Regions from separate parts of the Homo sapiens genome. Here region 1 is linked to region 2. Evidence: fine-mapped expression QTL. A gene starts in region 2. The other region holds a variant in brackets. All regions are shown on one strand. Distances are from middle to middle.

Region 1 (9,974 bases), 23 kb before region 2:
TTCATGATCACACCACTATTTTTACCTTCCACATAGCTACAGACATCACACCCTCAAAGTGAAGTCAAACTGTCCCCCTCATACTGAAGATGTCATGCCAAAACCATCACATACCCCACTGTTCAGTGAAACTGTTGGCAACTTACATGGAACAGAGCTGTGGGGTAGGAAAAAGGGGAAAGGGTTGCGTTAAAAAAAATGGGGAGACTCTACACATGCAGAACAAGTTAGTGGGAGGGAGTGCTCTGCTGGGTCAACACGCCATGAACCACACCCCTATTCGTGCTACATGAGGCTGAGTCCTTGCTACAACCACACAGAAATACAGACAATCAAGTGAACCTGAGCACCCCCAGGGATAACAGAAGAAAAATACAGAGAAGCAGAGGAGAGAAAGAATGGCAGCAAGAGGCAGATCACAGAATACCAGGGAACACCTAGTCCAAACCCTGTTTTACAGATGGGGAAAGTGAGACCTGGAGTAGTGAAGTGTCTTGCCAAAATACATAGTTTATGGGAGCATTAGAACTCCATGCTTCCTTTTAATGTGAGCAAGGAAAAAAAGAGATTGACAAGAAATTGATAGGCCTGCTAAGGCAGGAGACAGACCCAGGCCTCTCATTCCAGTTCTGTTGTCTTTTTGGAAGAGTGCCTATGAGGTCATTAAGGCCTTTCTGGGTGTTTTCTTGATTCTCAAGAGTCAGGGTTCTGGGTGGCTCTGGGACAGAGGGATCCAAAGAAACAGCCAGGCCACCTGATCAGGACAGAAGACAATGGCCTCTAATCTGTTCCCAAACTAGATCTGAAACAGTCACAATAAGCTAAGAATAGAAATTCAGCCATCTCTGAATCAAACACCATCACCTAAATGGTGGCAGAAAGAAAAGTCACCGAGCTGATAATCTGCTGTAGGCTGAAAACTGGAATAAATTTCCAAAGCGCACTCTCTTTTCTCTCTAGCTTGAGGCAGGTATTCAATAAATACTTGAATGAACAAGTGAATAAATGAATACATGGAGACCATCGATGAATGTTCAGTTCCATGACAGATACTGGTTCTGTTCAAGATCCATGCCGAGGACACTTTTGGGGTCTAAATTCTTTTTGTCCCACTGTGCTGGGACTGCAGATATGTCACATCGTGCCCCTGGCAAATAAAATAGAGAGAGGTGCAGATTTAAATAATAAAATGTGTCTGATTGGTAGAGATTAGGGGGAAAAGGTGGAAAACCATTCTTAAAGCAGCTGCTTTCTTTCACTTTTTTTCTCCTCTCAGTTTTATGAGAACAGTATACCAGATCCTGGAGCAATGAAGACAGAATTGCTGAATCTCCAAACATCTCAAAACATGCATTTGAAGTGAGTCAGGTAGCCTCACCCACTACCTCCTCGCCTCTCAACAGTCACTTCTTGGACAGGGAGGCTGTGGTAGACTGTGACAGTGAGATCTGACTGCACTTCTCGAAGACGGCCTCAGCAGAGAGTTTAGGCAGCCCCTGATCTAGAGGGCACTCATCCACCAAGCTGTTCATGGGCGTCGGGGGCAGCGGAGGGTCCTCCTCATCTTGACTCAGGCCAGAAATCAGGGAGTTACTTGCCCTGTCCAATTCCTTGTCCACTTGCTCCCTGGACACATCTGCTGTCTCAGGCTGTCCTGAAGGGATCTTCATGGAGTCAAAATATGCTGACAGGGCTTCCTGGAGCAGGGGCAGAAGTTTCTTTCGAGAGACCTGGGTGTTGCCTTGAAGATAGGCATGGAGGTTAGGGTGGGTACTTGAGGCAGGGGTCAGCTTCAGGGGTGGAGAGTGGGAGCGTTCCAGGACTTCACAGATCTAAAGAGGAGACAATAACAGGGAAATGATACACAACTTGCTGTAGCAAAGTGCTGGGCTTCTAAGTGAGAGGCTTCCTCTATAGAAGAGGAAGCTTTTAAAAAGTAAGTCGGCCGGGCGGGGTGCGGTGGCTCACGCTTGCAATCCCAGCACTTTGGGAGGCCGAGGCGGGTGGATCATGAGGTCAGGAGATTGAGACCATCCTGGCTAACACAGTGAAACCCCGTCTCTACTAAAAATACAAAAAATTAGCCGGGCATGGTGGCGGGTGCCTGTAGTCCCAGCTACTCGGGAGGCTGAGGCAGGAGAATGGCGTGAACCCAGGAGGCGGAGCTTGCAGTGAGCGGAGATCGCGCCACTGCACTCCAGCCTGGGCGACAGAGCAACACTGCATCTCAAAAAAAAAAAAAAAAAGTAAGTCAGCCGGGCGCGGTGGCTCACGCCTGTAATCCCAGCACTTTGGGAGGCTAAAGGGGGCCGATCACCTGAGGTCGGGAGTTTGAGACCAGCCTGACCATCATGGAGAAACCCCATCTCTACTAAAAATACAAAATTAGCCAGGCATGATGGCGCATGCCTGTAATCCCAGCTACTTGGGAGGCTGAGGCAGGAGAATCACTTGAACCCAGGAGACAGAAGTTGCAGTGAGCCAAGATGGTGCCACTGCACTCCAGCCTGGGCAACAAGAGCGAAACTCCGTCTCAAAAAAAAAAAAAAGTAAGTTATCCTTGAGGCCGGGCACAGTGGCTCACGCCTGTAATCCCAGCACTTTGGGAGGCCAAGGTGGGCGGATCACCTGAGGTCAGGAATTCGAGAACAGCCTTGTCAACATGCTGAAACCCCATCTCTACGAAAAATACAAAAATTAGCCAGACATGGTGGTTCACACCTGTAATCCCAGCTACTTGGGAGGCTGAGATAGGAGAATCATTTGAACCTGGGAGGCGGAGGTTGCAGTGAGCCGAGATCTCACCATTGCACTCCAGCCTGGGCAATAAAGCAAGACAAGAAAAAAAGTAAGTTGTCCAGAGTTCGGTTTTATTGTTTGCAACAGAAGGAACACTAATATACACAGTATTTTTTTTTTTTTTTGAGACAGAGTCTTGCTCTGTCGCCCAGGCTGGAGTGCAGTGGTGCAATCTCAGTTCAGTACAACCTCTGCCTCCCCGGTTCAAGTGAATCTCCTGCCTCAGCCTCCCATGTAGCTGGGACTACAGGCATGTGTCACCCAGCCTGGCTAATGTTTGTATTTTTAGTGGAGACGGGGTTACACCATGTTAGCCAGGCTGGTCTCGAACTCCTGCCCTCAGGTCATCCGCTCTCGCCTCGGCCTCCCAAAGTGCTAGGATTACAGGTGTGAGCCACCAAGCCTGGCCCACAGTATTTTATTTTAGTATTTTGTATTTTTTATTTAATAGACTAGGGATGGGGTCTTGCTATGTTGCCCAGGCTGGTCTCCAAATCCTGGTCTCAAGCAATCCTCCTGCTTCAGCCTCCGAAAGTGCTGGGATTCATACACAGTGTTTTATTTATTTTATTTTACTTTAATTTTTTTTTTTTTGAAATGGATTCTTGCTCTGTTACCCAGGCTGGAGTACAGTGGCACGATCTTAGCTCACTGCAACCTTCGCCTCCCAGATTCAAGCAATTCTCTTGCTTCAGCCTCCTGAGTAGCTGGGATTACAGGCACCTGCCATCATGCCCAGCTAATTTTTGTATTTTTAGTAGAGACGGGGTTTCGCCATATTGGCCAGGCTGGTCTCAAACTCCTGAGCTCAGGTGATCTGCCCAGCTCAGCCTCCCAAAGTTCTGGGATTACAGGCATGAGCTACCATACCCAGCCATACACAGTATTTTAAAAACAGAGGAAACAGTTTAGATTGTATATTTCATTTTATTATTAAAGTAACTAAAGCGAAGTAAGATGGTTGTGAGTAAAATCATGCAGATGATGGCAGTTAAACCAGAACCGAGGAACCCCAGCTTCTAATCTAGTGTCGTTTCCAAGTGTATAAATGTGCTCAAGAACTTGAACTAGGATGGAACTAGAATTTATCTAGAGGCCAGAAGAGGGATGGAGGAAGAAAGAATGAATTGAACAAAATAAGACTGGTATCACTATTACCCTCACTTACATGCAGGGAAACTGAGGCTTCAATGATCAGGTAACTTGCCTAAGGTCATAATTTGCATGAAGCAAAACTGACACTGAGCCCAGAGCTGTCACCAAAGCCAGTGTTCTAAATCAATATATTATACTACCCCTAACATAGGAGAA[A/G]GAGAGGAGATGGTAGAGTAGACTGTAAGAAAAGGACTCCTGGCTGGGCATAGTGGCCCACACCTGCAATTCCAGAACTCTGGGAAGCTGAGGCTGGTGGATCACTTGAGTCCAGGAGTTCGAGACCAGCCTGGGCAACATAGCGAGACTCTGTCCCTACAAAAAATACAAAAAAAATTAGCTAGCCATGGTGGTGTGCCTGTAGCCGCAGCTACTTGGGAGGCTGGGAGGATTGCTTGAACCCGGGAGGCAGAGGTTGCAGTGAGCTGAGATAGTGCCATTGTACCACTCCAGCCTGGTCAACAGAGTGAGACATCTCAAAAAAAAAAAAAAACACACACACACACACACAAAAACAAAACAGAGAGAGAAGGACTCCTGTTTCCAAGCATAGGGGCAACCTAGACAATGGTAGAGTCATTAGAAATCCACACAGCTTTAAAAGAGCAGCACAGAGGGGAGAAGATTCAGGAACGTGGAAGAGGTACTTCTAATGGCCAAAGCACCCTTTTCTTACTGACAGGATTAGTAAGAGCCACTATTTACAAAGTGCTTACTCTGCTCCAGGAGTGTGCTTTACACATGATATTACGTTTAATGATCATAGCAGAATTAGCAGTAGGTACTATTATGCCATTTCCAGATGCAGAAGTCAACTGACTTGCCTTAGCTCAAAGAGTGAGTAAGAGGCAAACCTAGAACAGAAAAGCACATCTACCTGACTTTAAAAACTGCAGTTCTTGGCCAGGTGCAGTGGCTCAGGCTTGTAATTCCAGCACTTCGGAAGGCCAAGGCAGGTGGATCACTTGAGGTCAGGAGTTCGAGACCTGCCTGGCTAACATGGTGAAACCCCATCTCTACTAAAAATACAAAAATTAGTCAGGCATGGTGGCAGGCGCCTGTAGTCCCAGCTACAGGCTGAGGTGGGAGAACTGACTGAACCTGGGAGGTGGCGGTTGCAGTGAGCCAAGATCACACCACTGTACTCAAGCCTGGGCGACAGAGTGAGACTCCATCTTAAAAAACAAACAAACAGACAAAACTGCAGTTCTTTTCATAATGACGAACTACCTTACACTGAATGAAATCAGATTTGCTTCCTGGGGAGAAGGCAAAGGCAAAGGGGGGCGGGAAAGGACAGACATACCTTCTATGAGAGCAAAGGATTATCTGGCTGTATTCTGTCTTTAGCAGTCCTCACAGAGCCTAGGCAACCCTCAGAATCCCTGAACTGCCTTAAGCCCACCTTTTTTTTTTTTTTTTTTGGAGACGGAGTCTTGCTCTGTTGGCAGGATGGAGTACAGTGGCGCAATCTCGGCTCACTGCAACCTCTGCTTGCCGAGGTTCAAGAGATTCTCCTGCCTCAGCCTCCTGAGTAGCTGGGACTATAGGCACGCACCACCACGCCCAGCTAATTTCCGTATTTTTAAAAGAGATGGGGTTTCACCATGTTGGCCAGGATGGTCTTGATCTCTTGCTCTCGTGATCTGCCCGCCTCAGCTTCCCAAAGTGCTGGGATTACAGGTGTGAGCCACCGCACCCAGCCTTAAGCCCACTTTTAAATTCTTCCCTAGGCTAATCAGTAACCAGCAGAGGAACAGAAGGGGGAGGAAGTAGGAAAGATAGCCAAATCTGGATCTAGATCACTTCTTTACAGAGTTTGCACTATACAGAATAATTAATCCCTGCATAGTAAGTAGCAGAAAAGGTCTCTCGTATTTCTAATTTTCAAGGCAACAGCATAATTCCAGGGGTGAGGAATTAATGATTAAACCAAGAATAGAGTTTTTGTTTTTTTTTTTCCCCAACAGAGATGAGGTCTTGCTATCTTTGCCCAGGCTGGACTCAAACTTTCCAGCTCGGCTGGGCGCGGTGGCTCACGCCTGTAATCCCAGCACTTTGGGAGGCCAAGGCGGGCGGATCACGAGGTCAGGAGATCGAGACTATCCTGGCTAACACGGTGAAACCCCGTCTCTACTAAAAATACAAAAAATTAGCCGGGCGTGGTGGCGGGCGCCTGTAGTCCCAGCTACTCGGGAGGCTGAGGCAGGACAATGGCGTTAACCCAGGAGGCAGAGCTTGCAGTGAGCCGAGATTGTGCCACTGCACCCCAGCCTGGGCAACAGCACAAGACTGTCTCAAAAAAAAAAAAAAAAAAAAAACTTTCCAGCTTAAGCAATCCTTCTGCATCAGCCTCCCGAGTTGCTGGGACTACAGGCACGTGCCACTGTCCCTAGCTCAAGAAGGGAATTTTAACTCCGGATTTATAACATTTCCTTCTAACTAGATTTCGTTCTTTCAAAGTAGGAATTGAATCTCTAGTTCTCTTTGGAATTCCCCCTTTCTCAACAATGCTATGATTAAGGATGTTCATTAAAAAAAAAAAAAGGATATTCATATAGAGAGAGAATGGGAAAAAGCAGAAAGGGGAGGAAACAGGTCCAGAAACAGGTCAAGGGACCTCATGTAAGTACATTAATATAAGAACCTAAGAGAGGTCCTTATAGGACAGCTGTAGAGCACAGAGGTACATACAGGCAGACTCTGTAAGGCTCTTAGGTTGGAGAAGGGACACAGACTCACCGTTGTTTGGAGTGCCACATGGGGACAGAAAATAGCCAACTGCCGCACTGGCTCATTGTGAGTGTTGAAAAAGATAGTCATGGCAACCAGGACATCATAGCTGTGAGCCTGGCAGAAAGCATGGAGATCTGCAAGGAGGTTAGACCTCTGCAGAAAGGCCTGAAAGGGAAGAAACGGAGAGGGATGAAGGACTTTCTCATCATCATCAATAAAACATCCTTGGGCCGGGCACGGTCGCTTACGCCTATAATCCTAGCACTTTGGGAGGCCGAGGCAGGTGATCACTTGAGGTCAGGAGTTCGAGACCAGCCTAGCCAACATGGTGAAACCCTGTCTCTGGTAAAAATACAAAAATTAGCCGGGCATGGGGGCATATGCCTGTAATCCCAGCTACTCAGGAGGCTGAGGCAGGAGAATCGCTTGAACCAGGGAGGCGGAAGTTGCAGTGAGCTGAGATTGCGCCATTGCACTCCAGCCTGGGGGACAAGAGCGAAACTCCGTCTCAAAAAACAAAAACAAAACAAAACAAAACAAAAAATTAGCTGGGCATGCCGGCACGCACCAGTAATCCCAGCTACTAGGGAGGCTGAGGCAGGAGAATTACTTGAACCCGGGAGGCAGAGGTTGCAGTGAGCTGAGATCATGCCATTCCACTCCATCCTGGGCAACAGAATAAGACTCAGGCTCAAAACAAACAAACAAACAAACATACATACATAACTGCTAGAGGTTTTTTGAGCATAGGAGATAGTACTTCAGTTAGGGTGGTCAGGAAAAACCTCCCAAAACAAGAGACATCTGAGCTGAGTACCTGAATGTTAAGAAGGAGCCAGCTTTACAAAGAAAAAAGCTCAGCTGGGAATGAGCTTAATGGTTCTGAGGAACAGAAAAGAAACCAGTGTGGCTGCAGTACTGTAGAACAGGAGTGGAGCTGGAATGAGATGAGGCCAGAGAAAAAGACAAGGGCCAGATCAAGCATGGCGCTGTAAACCACAGTAAGTCCTTTAGATTTTATTAAAAATACAATGAGGCCGGGCACAGTGGCTCACGCCTATAATCCCAGAACTTCGGAGGCCAAAAGGAGAACTGCTTGAGGCCAGGAGTTTGAGACCAGCCTGGGCAACATAGTGAGACCCCATCGACACATACATACACGCGCGCGCACACACACACACACACACACACACACACACACACTAGTTAGGTGTGGTGGTGTGCACCTGTGGACCCAGCTACTCGAGAGGCTAAGGTGGGAGGATTGCTTGAGCCTGGAAGGTTGAGGCTGCAGTGAGCCATGATGGTACCACTGTACTCTAGCCTGGCAACAAAGCATGACTCCCTTAAAAAAAAAAAAAAAAAATTAAAAAAGACCACTCTGGCTGCTGCGGGGAGAATGGTTTGTAGGGCTGCAAAAGCAGAGGCAGGGACACCAGTACTGAGGCTAATACAGCGGTGCAGTGAGAGATGCTGGACTCTGGTGGTCACAGTGGAGGTAGAGACAAAGATAGACACAAGATACATTTTGGAGGTGAGCCAGGAATGAGGTGCAAGGCCACATGCATAACATGCATAGCTAAAGGCTTTCTCTCCCCACCCACAGCCACAACTTGCTCTTACCTCCAAATCCATATATATTGCACTAATGGCCACCTTGACGCCTTGTCTATAGATAGTCTTCTGGTCTTTTCTCAGCATCTGCTCAGTGGTCAGTCCTAGAAAGCAGATGAGAGACTAGGGGTCAAACAGGGTAGGCCAGGGTCCCAAGACCAAGAAGGCAAGGACAGCCAGATGGGTCAAGGAAGGAAAAACAGCCTCTCTTTGGGGCAATGAATGGGGGAGATAATTGAAAATGTAATCATAGCCGGGCGCGGTGACTCAGGCCTGTAATCCCAGCACTTTGGGAGGCTGAGGTGGGCGGATCACCTGAGGTCAGGAGTTTGGGACCAGCCTGGTCAACATGATGAAACTCTGTCTCTACTAAAAATACAAAGAATTAGCTGGGTGTGGTGGCGGGCACTTGTAATCCCAGCTACTCAGGAGGCTGAAGCAGGAGAATCACTTGAACCTGGACTCTGTCTCAAAAAAAAAAAAAAAAAAGAAAGAAAGAAAATGTAATCACATAATCAAAAGCCATCTTAAATAACTGGTGACAATAGGTACCTTTAGAGCAAGTAACTTTGGAGAGAAGGATGAAACCCAGAACAGAGGCTTTTACTTTTTATCTTTCCCTCTTCCTATACTGTTTACATGTGAGTTCTTTCTTTCTTTCTTCCTTTTTATGTCAACAGGTGGTAGCTGAGTACAAGAATACAGTTTTTTTTGGGTTCTCTTCATCTTTTGTTTACTCACAAAATATTTCTTTTGCCTCCCTAACCAATTCTATAGATTTCACTCTGATAATTTAGTATACTCTCAGCATATTTTATATATATGTCCTGTATTCTCTGAATAGACTGGAACCTATGAGGCTCTTTTTGTTTTTTTTTGAGACGGAGTTTCGCTGTCGTTGCCCAAGCTGGAGTACAATGGCGCAATCTCGGCTCACTGCAACCTCCACTTCCCGGGTTCAAGCGATTTTCCTGCCTCAGCCTCCTGAGTAGATGGGATTACAGGCACACACCACCACGCTCAGCTAATTTTTCGTATTTTTAGTAGAAACGGAGTTTCACCATGTTAGCTAGGCTGGTCTTGAACTCCTGACCTCAGGTGATCTGCCCACCTCGGCCTCCCAAAGTGTTGGGATTACAGGCGTGAGCCACTGCGTCTGGCCCTTCTGAGGCTCTTAATACATTCCTCCTCATCCTAACCAAGAGCCAGGATAGAACAATCCAGTAAATGACTGATTATTTCATGCTTAGGCTAATATGGTACTTCATTTCTTTCTGGTATAAAATTTAAATAATTGGCCAGGCGCGGTGGCTCATGCCTGTAATCCCAGCACTTTGGGAGGCCCAGGCGGGCAGATCACCTGAGCTTCAGAGTTCAAGACCAGCCTGGTCAACATGGTGAAACCCGATCTTTACTAAAAATACCAAAATTAGCTGGGCGTGGTGGTGGGCGCCTGTAATCCCAGCTACTCGGGAGGCTGAGGCAGGAGAATCGCTTGAACCCAGGAGGTCGAGGTTGCAGTGTGCCAAGATTGTGCCACTGCACTCTAGCCTGGGTGGCAGAGCAAGACTCTGTCTCAAAAAAAAAAAAATAATATAATGAACAAGGCTTGCCTTTCTGTTTTCTTATCTGGGAGGCAGAAAAGTCAGCTAACATTTCATACCTGATACATC
Region 2 (9,974 bases):
CCAAGGTGGGCGAATCACCTCAGGTCAGGGGTTCGAGACCAGCCTGGCAAGCATGGTGAAACTAAAAAGCACAAAAATTAGCCGGGTGTGGTGGCAGGTGCCTGTAATCTCAGCTACTCCAGAGGCTGAGGCAGGGAGAATTGCTTGAACCCGGGAGGCGGAGGTTGCAGTGAGCCGAGATCCCACCATTGCACTCCAGCCTGGGTGACAGTGTGAGACTCCATCTCAAAAAAACAAACAAAAAAAATGAGAATAATATCGTAACCAATTTCATGATGTTGTTAGGAGGATTAAATGAGATAGTACCATAAGTGCCTACGCTGTAAATAGTAAAGATGTGATCTCCCATCTTCTTTCTTTACTTCTCCCCGTTGTTCAAGTCTACCTAATGTCTTTCTCTGTGAAGCCTTCCTGAACACCCAGCCCAGAGAAATCCTCTTCCTCTAAACCTCCAGCTTCTAGCACTTGTGGCTCTGAGACAGACCTTAACTTCTATCTTAAGGAGCTCCCTGTCTTTTCATGGTCATGTATCCCTGATCCTTAACATGGCTTATGTGGTGGGTGACTATATATTTGATTGTTCAAACTGGGACGCTTATGAGAATGAAAAGGGGTGCTATTAATGATTACACAGGGGAAAACCAAGACTGCCCTGGGCAAACCGTGTGTGGGGCTGCCCAACTTATAAGACATCATTCTCTTCTTTATTTAAGAAAAACATGTGTAACCCCTAATTCCAAGCCCATCCTCCACCAGCTGAAAGCACAAGCCAAACAGCCTCAGTTTTCTGACCATCAGAGAAAGAGTTCAGGGAAAATACAGCTATACTTAGCAGCATGAGGAAATCTAAGCTGCCAATGGAAAAAATACAATCTGAGGGCCACAAGTAAATAAATACAAACTTTTTTTCTTTTTTCTTTTTTTTAAAGACCCACTAGTTGGCCAGGCACGGTGGCTCACGCCTGTAATCCCAGCACTTTGGGAGGCCGAGGTGGGCCGACCACGAGGTCAAGAGATTGAGACCATCCTGGCCAACATGGTGAAACCCCGTTTCTACTAAAAATACAAAAATTAGCTGGGCATGGTGGCACATGCCTGTAGTCCCAGCTACTCGGGAGGCTGAGGCAGGAAAATCACTTGAACCTGGCAGGCGGAGGTTGCAGTGAGCCGAGATCATGCAACTGTACTCCAGCCTGGTGACAGAGCGAGACTTTGTCTCAAAAAAAAAAAAAATTAATTAATTAAAATAAATAAATGAATAAACACCCACTAGTTGAAATGACTCTCTTATCCTGATATGTTCTTTGTGGCCTCAAGAGGAGGGGGCAGGGAGGGGATTCTAGGCCTGGCAAAGTAAACCACTTCCCTTCTAAAGCTGAATATGGTATGATAACTACTCTTCAGAATAGTTAATGGGGGAGAAAAATAAACGAGACAGAAAGCCAGAGAGAGACAAACCCTCTCAGCAGAGAAAACAGGAACAATACTGATGCCAGGACTGCAAATTTCTAAGGAGAGCCAGCTCCTGATTCCTGCCTCATGCCTGAGAACTGCACACACTACATTATCCAAGGGGTCCTGGATGAACACCTAAACTGCAATGCAGCCCCACCCTGAAGCAAAGATTTCTCCCCTCAGAAGTGAAAGATGAGTCACCATAAATAGGACATTTGGTTAAATGATTTTTTTTTAATGGAACATCCTATTGTCTCTGTGGCAGAGGCTATAGAAAATTTCTGTGGTATCAAATACTAAAAATATGGTAGCAACGGGAGACTTGGCTGGATTACCAGCTGTCTTTATCCTGCACAAAGAGGAGCATTCATGATTTTCTGAAAGTTATAATTAAACTGTAGTTTAACAGAAACATTCAAACTTAAGAGTGTATCTGTCTAAATCACCTCTCTCTCTTTACACAAGAAACTTAACGGTGTCCTCTGGAGAACTGGATGGAGAGGAGAAAAGAAAAATGATCTTTATCTTTTTCATTTCATATCCCTTTGGTATTTAAATTTGTTCATGAAATACACATTTACTACTTCTATAATTTAAAGCAATCTAGGCTGGGTGTGGTGGCTCATGCCTATAATCCCAGCACTTTGGGAGACCAAGGCAGGCATATCACTTGAGGTCAGGAGTTCAAGACCAGCCTGTCCAACATGGTGACACCCTGTCTCTACTAAAAATACAAAACTTAGCCAGGCATAGTGGCGCACACTTGTAATCCCAGCTACTCAGGAGGCTGAGGCAGAAGAATCGCTTGAATTCGGGAAGTGGAGGTTGCAGTGAGCCTACTCCAGCCTGGGCGACAGAGTGAGTCTATCTCAAAAAAAAAAAAAAAAAAATTAAAGCAATTTAAATTGTTGGCATCTACCAGTATGTCTTGCCATCAGTTCCCCTGTTAACCTTCCTAGAGTCTAATTTTCTCATTTCTCCAGGCCCTGGAGAGGCTATGTGATGATGCAAGCTCTAAGACACAATCTCACCTTTCACAAGTTCACAAGTTTGAAAGGAAGATCTAGATCTTGCTCCTTGGGGGATGAATGCAGGGAGAGAAAGGTCGAGATGCCAGCAGTATTGGAAAAATCAAGTATTTTTCCAGCTTCATATTGCTGTAGAGAATATACTATTCGGGCTGGGTACAGTGGCTAACACCTGTAATTCCAACACCTTGGGAAGCCAAGCCAGGGGGATTGTTTGAGTCCAGGAGTTTGAAACCAGATTGGGCAGCATGGCGAGACCCTGTCTCTATAAAAATACAAAAAATTAGCCCTGCGTGGTGGCACTGCCTATAGTCGCAGCTTTTTCGGGAGGCTGAGGTGGGAGGATCACTTGAGCCGGGGAGGTGATCACACCATTGCACTCCAGCCAGGGCAACAGAGTGAGACCCTGGCTGAAAATAAATAAACAAATACAAAATAAAAATAGAGAATATACTACTAACCTGGGGGTCGGGGGAGGCTCTGGAGGATATATGCTGGAGAGTAGATGCATGCAAAGAAATACTATTTGGTGAGGTTTCAGGTCCAAGGGCACTTTACCAAATGGTGGAAGAGACCAGTCATTTGGGTTACTGGGGGGTAAAATCCAACTGTTTAGCACTTAGAACGGTGCCCCAAAAACTCTACATTAGTCCTCCAATAAGCGCCCTGTGGTGGACTCAGAGGTAACAAAAAGGGATTGGTTCCAAATGGCCTTATGCATTGAAATAACTCCCCAAATTTGTTTTTCACAAGGAAAATGTCTATGTAATTGGTGTTAAAATGGACCTTCTCCCCAATTCAATATGAAGACAATTCATTTATTCCAGCAGCTGAGTCTGCAGCAGGAATTAGTGACTTTCAGGATTTGTTAAAGACCAGAATCTGTCCCTCAGGGGAATTTGTAGAGTTTAAGATATCTAAAAAGGAAAGCTCAGCAAGCCATCTATCTAGGTTTCTTCAGGGCAGTATAACTCAAAGTAGAGGGGCCGGGTGACCTCCTGGAGCCTGTCTCTGGTTAGCTTTTTGCTGCTAACTGGGGATAACAGCCTAATGCCTCATGACGGCTCAGCATGGCTGGGTGAGTCCAACTGAGTCAGAGAGCACCAAAAATAAGCCACAAAGCATTGAGTAGTCATATTTATGGTTTTGATTCCAAACACACTTTGTGCTTATCCCTTCCAAGTGGAGAATTTTTATGTCATTTGTGTGCGTTAAGGCCAAAGGAGAAACCTGGAGGCAAAGGAATGCTGGTTGTGGGTCAACAAATATGCCTGATGGATTTTGTATGTTTGGCTTAAAAACACTGACTTAAAGTAAAATACTGTGACTACTTCTAACCTAGAAATGAGTTCAGCCCGCCAGACAGAAACTGCCATTCGGAGGAAATAAGGCCGTGAGCACCGGTTCCCTCCACACCCCCGAGGTTCACCTGGAGGCCAGTGGGCCAAGCGAAGCCTTGGGAGCGGAGAACTCAAAGAGGGGCGGGGAGAAAAGAATAAACACACCTCGCGGGGCTAGGCTGGCGGCGGCACAGTCCTGGTTTTTTTGATGGAACTGACCAAGATGACAGCAAGCAGAGGCTCAAATGCAGGATTCAGACCCAAGACTTCTCCCCGCTCTCAGGCGGACCCCAAAGGCGGGGAGCCAAAAACCGGGAGACTGAACAAGCAGCATTCTCACGCTCCTAAACTGGCTTCTCGCTCCTCGCTCCTCATGCCCCAAAACTGATCAGGCCCCAACCCCCCTCCCCACAACTCAGTGTTCCCTCCACACGGACCGTCGAGGCTCCCCCAGATCCCACGTCTTCGTCCTTCCTGGACCCCGTGCTCCATTCCTTACAGTCACAGACAGGGATTCGTTACCTGCAGAGCAGCTCGACAACCCTGCAGGTAGTCCTCCATGATGAAGCCCAAAGTACGCCGTCGCCCCTGGTCGAGTAGAGGTGCCCCTGGTCGAGGAGAGGTTTCCCCGACGAATGCAGCCCGCCCGGGACTCAGGGACTAGAGGCCAGAGTCAGGAGGCGGGACTCGAACCCGCCACACGGCGAATCGGCCTCCGACCCCGGGAGGAACTGCGTAAGCGGGCGCTCCGGAGTCCGGCGTCGCCCCGCCCCCAGCGGCGGAGGCGGGGCTCTACGCCCAGAGGCTCCTGGGACGTCTTTCCGGCGAGGCCAAGGGGGCGTGGCGTGGGGCGACGTGGGAAACGTAGTCCCGCAACTCCGCAATGTCCCTAGCAACCGAGGGAAGGATTGTTTTCTGAGGGATCAGTCGTTCGGTAAACAAATGTGTATGTGTCACAGTAACCCATTATTGTGGCATCTGAACTTTCCCTCTCAGATCAGGCCAAGTATAACATCTTTACATATATCACACCGAGCATCTGGTGACATTTTAAATGACACTTGGCAAAACAGATCATCTTCTTTCTACAAATTCTGCCCTTTACCAAACTGACTCAGTCGCCACCAATTTTGTGGTTGTTCATGTTAGGAGAACATTAGAATAATCTTTGACCCCTCTTGTTAACACCTACAGTCTCCTGCCAACTCCTGCTGCTTCTCCCTTTGCAACTCTGTAGCCTGTTTTTTTCTACAGCCTCGGCAAATATCTTCTTCCTTTCTTGGACGGTTGTAACCTTGGCTTTTTGCTCTCTGCCACCCTAATTGTTCCAATTGCTCTTTCAGCCTTTAGAGTTGCTTGAAATTTCATCCTGTGGCGGCCCTGTACATAGAGTTTAGGGAACCCTTCAGAATGTGGAGTTAGGTTCCAACCTCCCTTAACTGCCACTTTCCAGCCGCAGAGTAGTGCAGGTACTGCAAATAAATGGACACTCATCATCAAAAATTCCCTCATTTATTTATCTATCCCTTTATTTCCTACCGTCAGCCTCACACCAGCTTTTCCTGCTTCCCCAGCTGTAAATCGAGAGGAGGTGACTGATGAGAGGCCTGCAGTGGAACCAAGATCCAGAGCACAGGCGTGTTGGATCTCCTGCCTGCTCTGCCAGTTCTTTTCTTCTTCTTCTTCTTTTTGAGACGGAGTCTTGCTCCGTCTTCAGGCTGGAGTGCAGTGGCAGGATCTTGGCTCACTGCAACCTCCACCTCCCGGGTTCAAGCGATTCTCCTGCCTCAGCCTCCCGAGTAGCTGGGACTACAGGCATGTGCCACCATGCCCTGCTAATTTTTGTATTTTTAGTAGAGATGGGGTTTCACTATGTTGGCCAGGTTGGTCTTGATCTCTTGACCTTGTGATCCGCCCGCCTTGGCTTCCCAAAGTGCTGGGATTACAGGCGTCAGCCATCGCGCCCAGAGCCTGGGGCTTCTACCACACCCTCTGCACTCTACCAGGTGCACAACCCAACCAGTTTCATTTCTAGACTTAAAAATGATACAGCAAGGACTTGGAAAGGAGCTCTCTGGAGGGCTCCAGAGGGAAAAGAGCTGGGTTTGTTTGTTTGTTTTTAACATTAATTGAGTAATACATGCAAATATCGTGCTCTTTGCTCCTGCTTCTGTGGATCCAGAGCAAAGGACTGCCATACCCAGAGAGAGAGCCCAGATCCAACAAGCTGCTTCTGTCCAGCCCTTCTCCTCCCTACTTAGCAAGGGCACTTGCTCTTCCCTATTCTCACCAGAGAGGCACAAGCGCTCCGTCCCTTCTAGAGGCAGGCAGAGGGAAGAGAAAGGGTCTGTTGTTTTTCTCTCCTGTTTCTCGCTCCCTCTCTGCTGATCACAAAGCTGCTGACCGGGTCAGAAAGTCCTGATGGAAATCCACCAGCGCTGGGCAGGCCCCTCCTCCTCCAGGGAGCTTGTCCTTGCCTAATTTTTCTTCGTCCTGATGAGAACAAAAAAGAGAGAGAGAAGAAAAGAAAAACCACAAACTTCCTTTGAAAACCAGCTTGTAGTCAGGGCCCGGAGCGCATGCCATAGACTCGGCGACTCAGGAATCCTGAAGACTCTCTGAGCGACCTGGAGCACCTTGGCTGTGTCCCTGCCTGCCTTCACCCTCCTCCAGTGCCCCCAGTACTGGGCGTGAGTCCGGAAGTGGCCACAACCCAGCCTGGACCGTCGCTTATAAAGCTGTGTAAACCTGTATAAGCTCAGGCGTTGACAGCTGGAAGGCAGCTGGCACTGGCAGCCCCCTTCATTGCACCTATCTCCCCCATCTCATTGCCACGGCTGAACCCTCCTTCTCAATCTTGGAACAGCACCCCCTTCTTTAAGGTAAAAACTTTATTTTAATCATCTTCTTCACCTCTTCTCCCACCCTTCTCTATTTCCTCTCCAGCTTTGGGGAGCTGACACCTGCTGTCCTTCCACCTTTGGTCTGCAAGTCTGGATTGCTTAGAGGAGCTAAGTCAGGAGAGACATGTAAAGGGGATGCTGCTTGGTCCTCCTCCTTTTAATGAAAGCACGAAACCTTCCCCCTCTCCTTGTGAGCAAGTATACAGGGCACTGTGGCCATGGTTGACATATTCTGAGATGAAAATCTAAACTATTGATTGCACAAAGACATAGGTCAGACTAAGAAGGAGATTGGTGTGAGACAGTAAGGGAACTGTTCCTACAGAGAAGGAGTGTCTTCTTGAAGCTACATACCTGTTTTACGTGCTTCTTCCAACTTTCGGCTCTCTACTGCCATTGATTAGGGAGGAGCCAGGATTATTTTAACTCCCTCACTCACCACCATAATTCCAGCTGGAGAGAAAGTGTAGGATTTGACGAGCTAAGAAAGAGGAGGAAAAGAATGAAACTTTGATTTATCTGACTATCCTCTCCCTCATTCTTTCCTACTCTGAAATACTCCATGCCCTCCCCAGCAGGATTGGACGTTGTAGAGTAGAAAGCCTCCATTACATTTCCTGCCCCTGCCTCTTAAGACTTAGCCCATTTAGCTCTGCCCAGTTCCTCTGAGACCCCACTCCCTCAGGTGTCCACTCCTGGGTTCCTTTGGCTCACCTCTCCAGCCAGCTAGCTGCCCAACCCCCACTTCATCATTGATCATTTCTGGCACTGGAGAGAAAATATAAAAAATAAGGCCTGCTTTTCTTTTTTTTTTTTCTTTTTTTCTTTTTTTTTTTGGAGGCAAGAGTCTCACTCTTGTCACCCAGGCTGGAGTGCAGAGGCACAATCTTGGCTTACTGCAACCTCCACCTCCGGGGTTCAAGCAATTCTCCTGCCTCAGCCTCCTGAGTAGCTGGGATTACAGGTGCCCGCCACCGTGCCCGGCTAATTTTTGTATTTTTAGTAGAGATGGGGTTTCGCCATGTTAGCCAGGCCGATCTTGAGCTCCTGACCTCAGGTGATCCGCCCGCCTCGGCCTCTCAAAGTGCTGGGATACAGGTGTGAGGCACTGTGCCCGGCCAAGGCCTGCTTTTCTTCAAGCTTTTTCACTTTTCCAGGCTCTGGCATCTGCTTTGAGGTTCACCCTAAGTGTCATTTAAGGGGAGAAGGAAAGGAGAGAGAGAAAGAGAGAGAAAAAAAAGCATAAGGCCTGCAGGCAATTTTTGCTACTCTGATTCTAAATTAACAACACGTAAATGATATGCAGCTAGCATAAACATATGTGAATCAAGAGGATAATCAATTTGAGTGACTAGGCTTATTTTGTTTCAGTAACTTTAATGTTCCTCAACCTCATCTCCCAGGCCTTCCCCTAGCCCCAAATTCCTGTAGGTTTACAAGAAGGAAGCAGTCTCAGGCTGGGAGGAGGGTGGAGAAAAGACAAGATTTCTAACTAGTTTAATTTATTTTATTTTATTTTATTTTATTTTATTTTATTTTATTTTATTTTATTTTATTTTTGAGATGGAGTTTCGCTCTGTCACCCAGGCTGTAGTGCAGTGTCACCATCTCAGCTCACTGCAACCCCCTGCCTCCCAGGTTCAAGCAATTCTCCCACCTCAGCCTCCCGAGCAGCTGTGACTACAGGCACGTGCCAACACACCTGGCTAATTTTTGTACTTTCAATACAGACAGCGTTTTGCCATGTTAGCCAGGATGGTCTCGATCTCCTGACCTCAAGTAATCTGCCCGCCTCAGCCTCTCAAAGTGCTGGGATTACAGGCGTGAGCCACCGCGCCTGGCCCCTAACTAGTTTAATTTCTCCCTGTTTCTCTCCCTGATAAAGAGTGGGAGGGGAGCAAGGAGATTGAAGGGAGATGTTTTCCAAAGGGCAGGATTTGTGGTTTTTTATTATTTATACCCACAGTATTAGTTAAATGTCTATCTGTGCTTGCCTCAATGTGCCTCCAGTGCTGATAGAGAACAGGTTAAACAGGTCCGGTGTTCACATCTAAAATGACCTGGAGAGGACTGGGCACGGTGGCTCATGCCTGTAATCCCAGCACTTTGGGAGGCCAAGGTGGGAGGATCACCTGAGGTCGGAAGTTCAAGACCAGCCTGACCAACATGGAGAAACTCCATCTCTACTAAAAAATACAAAATTAGCTGGGCATGGTGTTGCATGCCTGTAATCCCAGCTACTCGGGAGGCTGAGGCAGGAGAATCACTTGAACCCAGGAGGCAGAGGTTGCAGTGAGCCGAGGTCGCACCATTGCACTCCAACCTAGGCAACAAGAGCAAAACTCTGTCTCAAAAAAATAAAAATAAATAAATAAAACCACTTGGATGGGAATAGACATAAAACTTTAGGTAGGTGAATGTACAGGAAGTATTGTTATGTAAATTAATAATCAGCATTTTCATATTTCATAGAAATAGCAGGCAAGAGAGTACCTCTGGGTTTAGGTAGTTTCTGGGGAAAAAAAATGAACTGAGGAAAAGTTGCTGTCTCAATGCTAGCTGTCAAGAGATGCTTACTGGGTCCAGGCACCGTGGCTCATGCCTGTAATCCCAGTCCTTTGGCAGGCTGAGGAGGGCGGATTGCTTGGGCCCCCAGGAGTTAAGACCAGCCTAGGCAACAAAGCAAGACCCTGTCTCAGTTTAATTAAAAGAAATTTGATATCTTTATTAATTTTTTTTAAAGAGAAGCTTACTGGAAGAACTTGTGGGGAGTGCTTTTTGTGCCCCTAATCTGAAGTTATTTATCAAAACCAGTCTCTGATTCCAGCCCCCACCACCTACATTTCCCCTCCCAGCTTACAGGAAACCCCTCCCAAGGCCTTTATACTGTGGTTTGGGATTGTGTAAGGTTCAGTAGAGCCCTTTGAGGTGGAAGACTTCCCCTTCCTCACCAGCATTTCACCTTTAGGGGCATGAAACTGACTCTCTGTGCCTCCTCCATTCTTCACCCCAAGTACTATGTGACTTAATCTTTTTATCCTTGGGTGAGGCAGAGAGAAGGTATCCCTAAACATACAAGCACTGTGTATTCTTAGTATGTTGTGTGAAGGGGCAGGGTGTGGGGTAGGGCAGAGGAATTATCTCTGTCATGGCTATGAGGGGGTTACTGATGTGATGCCTATTAGAGTAAGCTAAAGATCATCATATTAATAACCATTAGCGTAGATTTAACATTTCTTTCTCCACCT

Evidence for each region.
Region 1: its variant is fine-mapped to the expression of PRUNE1 in whole blood (INTERVAL, PIP above 0.99).

The regions. Positions count from the first base shown.
Region 1 is chr1:151,025,664-151,035,637 of GRCh38, reverse strand. PRUNE1 (prune exopolyphosphatase 1) reads right to left here. Exons shown (of 8, transcript NM_021222.3): 5 at 9,965-9,974; 6 at 8,311-8,405; 7 at 6,694-6,852; 8 at 1-1,832. The coding sequence ends at 1,404. Among named protein-coding and RNA genes, the nearest start is that of BNIPL, 5.9 kb to the left of the region's middle. The variant A/G (reference allele first, on the strand shown) is at 4,111.
Region 2 is chr1:151,003,043-151,013,016 of GRCh38, reverse strand. PRUNE1 (prune exopolyphosphatase 1) reads right to left here and starts at 4,568. Exons shown (of 8, transcript NM_021222.3): 1 at 4,346-4,568. The coding sequence starts at 4,384. It overlaps MINDY1 (MINDY lysine 48 deubiquitinase 1), which reads left to right and starts at 6,115. Exons shown (of 10, transcript NM_001376665.1): 1 at 6,115-6,705. RefSeq lists enhancers at 3,929-3,978, 3,634-4,174, 4,175-4,717, 6,210-6,389, 6,620-6,879.